Linked DNA regions of Homo sapiens. The protein of the gene in region 2 purifies or fractionates together with the protein of the main gene of each other region. This does not show direct contact. Each region holds a gene or a part of one and is shown on either strand. Other genes may lie near its edges.

The links.
Region 1: the proteins of INVS (region 2) and CHCHD6 purify together in Homo sapiens (affinity purification with mass spectrometry; one large-scale study listed by BioGRID and IntAct). This does not show direct contact.

Annotation. Positions count from the first base shown.
Region 1 is NC_000003.12:126,955,703-126,959,353, forward strand, and holds part of CHCHD6 (MICOS complex subunit MIC25), read left to right. Parts: intron 1-1,713; coding exon 1,714-1,849; intron 1,850-3,651. UniProt on the Homo sapiens protein: Component of the MICOS complex, a large protein complex of the mitochondrial inner membrane that plays crucial roles in the maintenance of crista junctions, inner membrane architecture, and formation of contact sites to the outer membrane.
Region 2 is NC_000009.12:100,102,230-100,105,880, forward strand, and holds part of INVS (inversin), read left to right. Parts: intron 1-2,268; 5' UTR 2,269-2,292; coding exon 2,293-2,398; intron 2,399-3,651. UniProt on the Homo sapiens protein: Required for normal renal development and establishment of left-right axis. Probably acts as a molecular switch between different Wnt signaling pathways.

The sequences.
Region 1 (3,651 bases), on a different chromosome or scaffold from region 2:
ACATGGGACACTCACTGCTCATGTTAGCGATGGTGTTAGGCATGGGTATGTGACCTGGTCCTAGACAGTGAGTGGAGGAGAAACCTGGAGTGGGGTTTGAGGGGAGCATTGTCCCGCGTAGTCAGATGAGACAGCAGAGAGACCTGCTCCTCCCTGCTCCCTTTGACCTCTGCTGCAGAGAGGACTGCGCTGCATACAGTGGCCTGGGGATGACATGGACGAGAAGGGAAGACCAGACCCAGGTGGCATCACTGCTAAGTCAGCAGTGTACAGAAGTGTCCACCCGCAGACTTCCAGAGCAAGACAGCTAAATATGGGGTCCTGTTCCCAAGCTGTCGAGCATCCTGGTGCTGGTGGTTTCTAGCTGAGGAACTGTGTTCAAGTTATCGTTAGATGATAACGGCTCTGGAGACCCTGGTGGGAGAGCAACTGACCTACATATCTCTCTCTCCACGTACCTGGAGTGGAGCTGTGGCATGTGTGACAGTGATCCTTTCTATTGCTAAGAAACTTGAGGAATGGCTTTCTACATTTTTACAGCTCTTTTTGGTGCCCTCAGCCGTGAGTGGTGTTCAATTTGGAAAGGCTGTTAAGTGTTACAGTGGGTCCGTCTACAGCTGGGAAGGGTCCTGGCCTAAAACCCACTTAAGAAAACAAATGAGCAGCAACAGTACATCCAAAGCCATGTAAATAAATATGTCCCGCTCCTCCACTGTCCAGCTGCATGGCCTTAATTCTCTGAGCCTCAGTTTCCTCATTTGTGTGAACAGCATGATGAACGATAGTGTCTGCTACCAGAGCTGTAAGGAGCAGCACTGAGCACGCCCAGCAGCCGGAGGACAGCACCTGGCTGGCAGGGAGTGCACGAATGTGCTGTTGTGTGTGTCAGTGTGCGCACGAGAGAGAGAGAGAGAGAGAGAGAGAGAAATCTGGAAGGAGACCAACCAATCCAAAATTACGCTCAGGAGGCTGGGCCAGTGACTGACTTTAGTTTATCTATATTTGCTCTTTTTTTCCACAACTTTAGAAAGTGAACTTACTCACTTTTGTGGGTTCTAAAACTACTTTGAAAAAGAAAGAAAAAAATAGTAAATTACCCCCAAAATATTATAATGGTTACCTCTAAGAAGTAAAAAGAACATTTTTCATTTCTTTAGACATTTCTGTAGATTTCATTTTCCTTATTGCACGCATATTAGTTTTAAATCAGGAAAAAAAATAAGTCACATGGTTATAGTCACGGGTAAACCACAGGCACAGGAAAGCCCAGGAAAGCAGCTGACGGCTATCCTGGGCACAGTGGGGCGGGCTGTCTCAGGCATAAAGGGATGGCTATCCTGGGCACAGCGGGGCGGGTTGTCCTGGAGGCGGGCTGCACCATCCTCATGGGGGCCCTCCAGTGGGGCTTTCCTGTCTCCTGAGTGTACACAGGCCCCAGTGAAGGAGCCCGGTGTGGAGCCCCATACCACAGCATGTTTCAGTGTCTGCTATATTGTGAGCCTAAGCCACCCACCACAGGGCTTGACCCTGCGACCGTCCTCTCATTTCTAGAACGGGAAAGCACAGTGCTTCTCCTTGAGGGTTAAAAGGATGCTGCTGGGTGTCAGGGACTTAGCCTAGCGCCTGGGAGGTAGGTGGAGTGAATGTGAGTTGTTTCTCTCCCCTGCCTGCTGGCACCTGAGCCCCAGGCCTGCCTGCTCTTGTCTTCTGCAGGCCCCGCAGGGTGGAGCCCGTCTGCTCAGGGTTGCAGGCCCAGATTCTCCACTGCTACCGAGATCGCCCGCATGAGGTGCTGCTGTGCTCGGACCTGGTCAAGGCATACCAGCGCTGCGTGAGCGCCGCCCACAAGGTAAGGCCTTGCCTGCCTCCCAGGTTTCCAAGGGCCTTGGGAGGTAGGCGAGGTACCTCTATCTAGCATTGGAGATCTCTGCCTGCCTTTTCCTGTTAGAATCAGATGCTCCACTTGGAGGTCTCTGCATTTGCCAAGGGAGGGATTCTTCGCTTTCCTCAGTCACCTGCACACTCTCCTGGCTGCTTCCAGGAGCGCCTTGGACATCTGGCCCCAGGGAGATGATCCCTGTTGCGTTTGCCCTATTAGGCTGGGTGGGAGCAGGCTGGGTAAAGTCAGGCCCCACCTTCAAGGGCCGGGCCCCTTGTGGGTGCCGGGGACTTCTTAGCCCTCGGCACTTAGGGGTGGGAGGGTGGCAGAGGCCCGAGTGCAGAGTGGGGGTCCCAGCAAGGATAGGCCATCTGGAAGAGGAGTGGGAGCAGATGTGGCCATCAGAAGCTGCTCACAGCCACCCTGCCCTGAGCTGGTCTACAGGGGTGTGCTGGCTTGGCCTTCCTGGTGAGTGGTCCCAAGCCTCATGTGCTCTCTGGTCACCTCCCACTCCAGTGGGCCTCGGTTGTCCTGGATGCCTGTGATGCGCTCCCAGCCAGCTCCTACTGCCTTCCTCCCCCACCCCCAACTGCTGCTCTCTATCCTAGATAAGTCCTCCCCCTTCCCAGGTCCCGTAGCGTCCTCTGGTGCAGTCAGGCTGTTCCCAGCCATACCTCACCCTTGCCCCACCCCAACAGGACAGCTCCCACCTTGGGGAGCATCATTCACTCTCAGAACACCTAGTTTGGGCTCCCCAAGGAGTGCGGCCTGTTTGTGAAAATGTATGGGAGAAACAACAGGACGAGGTCTCCTTTCCCACGTAAAAGCCTCTTTGGCCTGAGTAGGAGACAGGCTGCTTTAGGTACTTGGGATGGAAAAGGCTGAGGCCAGATGCTCTGTGCTCTCCAGCCATGTCCAAGGGGAGATCTGTCCCACTGAACTGAGCGGGGTCCTGCAGCCCCAGGCCTGCAAGAGCTTCCTTGGGTCATGCCCTGCTCACACCCATCTGCCAAGGCTGATTGTTCCACTCTTTGCTGGTCACAGCCCCGTCCAGCACCGACTGTCCCTTCATGGCCAGAACACAGCCCAGAAGTAGCTCCACACAGGATGAGTGGTCGCAAGGCCTCTGTCAGCCTTCCAAGAGAGGGAAGCCCTGGGTAGGACAGGCGGCCTCCTCCTCCATCTCAGAGGATGGAAGGCTGCTCACTCTGCTTCCACGTGGGCAGGAGGCGCTGGGGCACTGGGTAGGCTGGGCCAGACCAGGGCCCTTCGCACCGACCAGACACTTAGCTCCCTACTCACCAGCAAAGTGAAGCCTCCAGATCCTCCACACACCCAATCAAGGGCAGCTCCGAGTCTCTGTTCATCACACACCTAACTCTTTACCGAGGGATCTGCTGCAGCCTCTTGGCTTCCTGGCAGGGCCTACGCCTCAGTGGCCAGCCCTAGACTCCATCCTCTCTCCATCCAGCCCCACCTCTGTGGTAGTTTTCAGCCCCTACCCACCACCCCTAAGAGTATTTCTTTAACAAACACACCTCACCAATATATCTTCCTCGCACCAAGGCAAAAATGTGATTACCAAGGAAGACAGATCACATTAAACCCCAGTGTATTCCCTGAGAGAGGCTCTGGGACACTGCCAGGTCTGGCTCCCTCCTTCCCGGCCCCTACCCCTGACATGACTAGCAAAGAAACCAGAGACTGAGCAATGGCAGTGCCAGAGGCCTGCCTGCTCTCCCCACGTGCTGCCTTGGCAGTGTGTGTGCATT
Region 2 (3,651 bases):
TAGGATTACAGGTGTGTGCCACCACAGCCCAGCTAATTTTTGTGTTTTTAGTAGGGACGGGGTTTCACCATATTGGTCAGGCTGGTCTCTCAAACTCCTGTCATATGTTTTTAAAAGGTTCTTACAAGCTCCATGAGACTACCGGTCAGAACAAAATTGTCCTTATTGAAATATGGTTCATTTTAGTGATACGATGTTCCAAGTAAGATCTTATGGTTAAGACCTCTATCTAGGTATATTTTCCTGGTGGACCAAGGAGAGAACAAATAAAAATTTCACTTTTTGTGAGAATGACGGCAAGACCTAGATACCTTTTAATTTAGTATTTAGCCAGGTGTGATGGCACATGCCTGAAGTCCCAGCTATTCAGGTGGCTGAGGAGGGAGGATCGCTTAACTCAGGAGTTTCAGGCTGTAGTGCGCTATGCCATTCAGGTGTCCACTTTAAGTTTGGCATCAATATGGTGATCTCCCAGGAGTAGAAGACCACCAGGCTGCCTAAGAAGGAATGAACTGGTCCACGTCAAAACTCCTATGCTGATCGTAGTGGGATTGCACCTATGAATAGCCACTGCCCTCCAGCCTAGGTAACATAGCAAGATCCCATCTCTTTAAAAATAGTTTTTTAACTAATTTTTTTTTCAGATGGAGTCTTACTCTGTTGCCCAGGCTGGAGTGCAGTGGTGCGATCTCAGCTCACTGCAACCTCCACCTCCCAGGTTCAAGCAATTCTCCTGCCTCAGCCTCCTGCATAGTTGGGATTATGGGCACGCGCCACCACGCCCAGCTAATTTTTGTATTTTTAGTAGAGACACAGTTTCGCCATGTTGGCCACGCTGGTCTCGAACTCCTGACCTCAGGTGATCTGCCCGCCTTGCCCTCCCAAAGTGCTGGGATTACAGGCGTGAGCCATCACACCCGGCCTTAACTAATTTTTTTATTTTTTTCTGAGTCAGGGTCTCAACCTGTTGCCCAGTCTGGCATGCAATGGTGTGATCTCAGCTCACTGCAAACCCTGTTTCTCAGGTTCAAGTGAAACTTCCACCTCAGCCTCCCGAGTAGCTAGGATTACAGTGCATGCCACCATGCTCAGCTAATTTTTAAAAACTTTTGGTAGGCAGGGCATGGTGGCTTATGCCTGTAATCCCAGCACTTTGGGATGCCAAGGTGGGCAGATCACTTGAGATCAGGAGTTCGAGACCAGCCTGGCCAACATGGTGAAACCCCGTCGCTACTAAAAAATACAAAACTTAGCCGGTCGTGATGGCAGGTGCCTATAATCCCAGCTACTGAGGAGGCTGAGGCAGGAGACTTGCTTGAGCCCTGGAGGCAGAGGCTGCAATGAGCTGACATCGCACCACTGCACTCTAGCCTGGGTGACAGAGCAAGACCCTGTCTCGAAAAGACAAGAAGGGAGGAAAGCAGGGGGAGAGGAGGGGAGGAAAGGAGAGGCGAGGGGAGGGGAGGGGAGGCGAGGGGAAGGGAGGGGAGGGGATGGGATTTGTAGAAATGAGCTCTCGCTATATTGCCCAGGCTGGTCTCAAACTCCTGGGCTCAAGAAATTCTCCTGTCTTGGCCTCACAAAGTGCTGGGATTACAGGCATGAGTCACCATGCCCAGCCCTAATTAATTTTTTTAAGTTTATTTAGTGCTTAAATCCAGCTAATTCTGACTTCACAATTGAGTTTATGTTATACTCTTTTTGTGGATCGGGCTCACTTTTATTTGCAATATCAATTCTAATGTTTAATATTATGTGGCATCATATTACTTGTATTAACTTAGATTATGTGGCATCATATTGCTTGTGTCACTGTAACCCTGAGCCCTGTGCCTAATGTTAAATATTGTCTTTGTTTTTTCCTCAGATAGTCCCTAAGAAGAGTCCTAGAAGCACCTACCCTCTCATTTTACAGATGAGCAGATGAGCAACTTGTACAAAAGTCACCTAATTTGCCACCTAATGCCAATTCCAGGACTAGGACTATAGCTTTTTTTCTTTTGAGACAGGTCTCACTAAGATAGACAGCCTCACTATCTTGCCCAGGCTGCTCTCAAACTTCTGGCCTCAAGCAATCCTCCTGCGTTGGCCTTCCAAACTGCTAGTATTACAGATATGTACCACTGCACCCAGCCAGGACTATAGATTTTTCTAATCCTAGTCAAGTATTTCTAGTAAGCCATATTTATAAAATACCCACTTGGAACTGATGAGACAGGTTTCAGAAATGTTTGCTGCATGCGCTCATTGTCTGAATCATTGTTTCAGGTTGCTCCGGTTGCTAAGAAGACTATGAACAAGTCAGAGAACCTGCTGTTTGCTGGTTCATCATTAGCATCACAAGTCCATGCTGCTGCCGTTAATGGAGATAAGGGTGCTCTACAGAGGCTCATCGTAGGTAAGCAGTCCCCTTAAGTACAGAAACTTTAAAAGCAACTGTTTGTCCTGAGGAAGTTTGTTAATGTTAGTTTTAATTTGCAATGTACTCATACATTTTAATGGAAATATGTTATTATTTATATTTTCTTCCAACACATGAACAAGAAAGGAATTAAGTCCTAAAACTTAAAAATATGGGTTAGGATTAGGTGAAAAGTACTTGAGAAATTTCTATGTATTTAGCACTAAGTCTAGATAGATATTCTAAGGTACTAAGGGAATGAATTCATCTTTATGTTAACAGATCTCGAATGAAACAGTGGATAATCTTTTAACATTTAATATATACCCAAAGTATTAAAGTTTACAAATGATTTAATTTTTAATGATTTAAAATTGATTCAATGTTCCCCCTGTGATTTGCATATATAAGTGATATATAGAGAGGTCCAATGCAGGAGTTCTAGAGGAGAGAATAAAGAGAACAAAGAATAGCTAAGAATTTTCTAGAACCTTAGCTTCCTGCTAAAGCAGAGCAAAGATCCATCTTTCTATCACAAATCCAGATATTCACAAGTTGCAAATCCCAAAGAGAAAAAAATAAAAATATATTATTTGTAGTCTTTATTCACACCAGTGTCTGATGACATCATGATTGACAACTTGGGCTACAAAATAAAGTCCAAATTACTTGAACTTTCATACCTGTTCCTTCCGACTTTGTTTTTACCCTACATTTGCAGTTTCTCCAGGAACTTCTACTGGTGTACCGTAACCTCTGGCTAAGCTAGAGGTTACTTCTATTTCCCAATAAGCCATGAATTTTGTCTCACTTTCTCCATATGTTCTGTTTCCCCACCTTTTTTCTATCTGCTACTCTGTTAACCTTCTTCTGTGCTAAACAAACTCCTACTTATCTTTAAAGACAAAACTATTGTATCTCACACTCTGTGAAGATTTCTCTTCCTCTGCTTATCCTTACTTTACCTCAGCTATCTACATTCACTGGAACTTGACATTTTCCACCACCTCCAAATCACTCAAACATTCTACCATTCAACTAAAACTCTTACTTTCAGCTCACTTACTGATGACAAACAATAGTTTTCCATGCTCACTGAGACCTCCAATCCACTAGCTTCTCTAGTTTTGACCATCAGTTTTCCTTCTGTCTTTTCCTTCCTCACTACTCAGCCTTGATTCTATGTCTGTTATTAAAATCCTTCTCTTGGAAAAATTCCCTTTTTTTTTTTTTTTTTTTTTTTTTGCCTT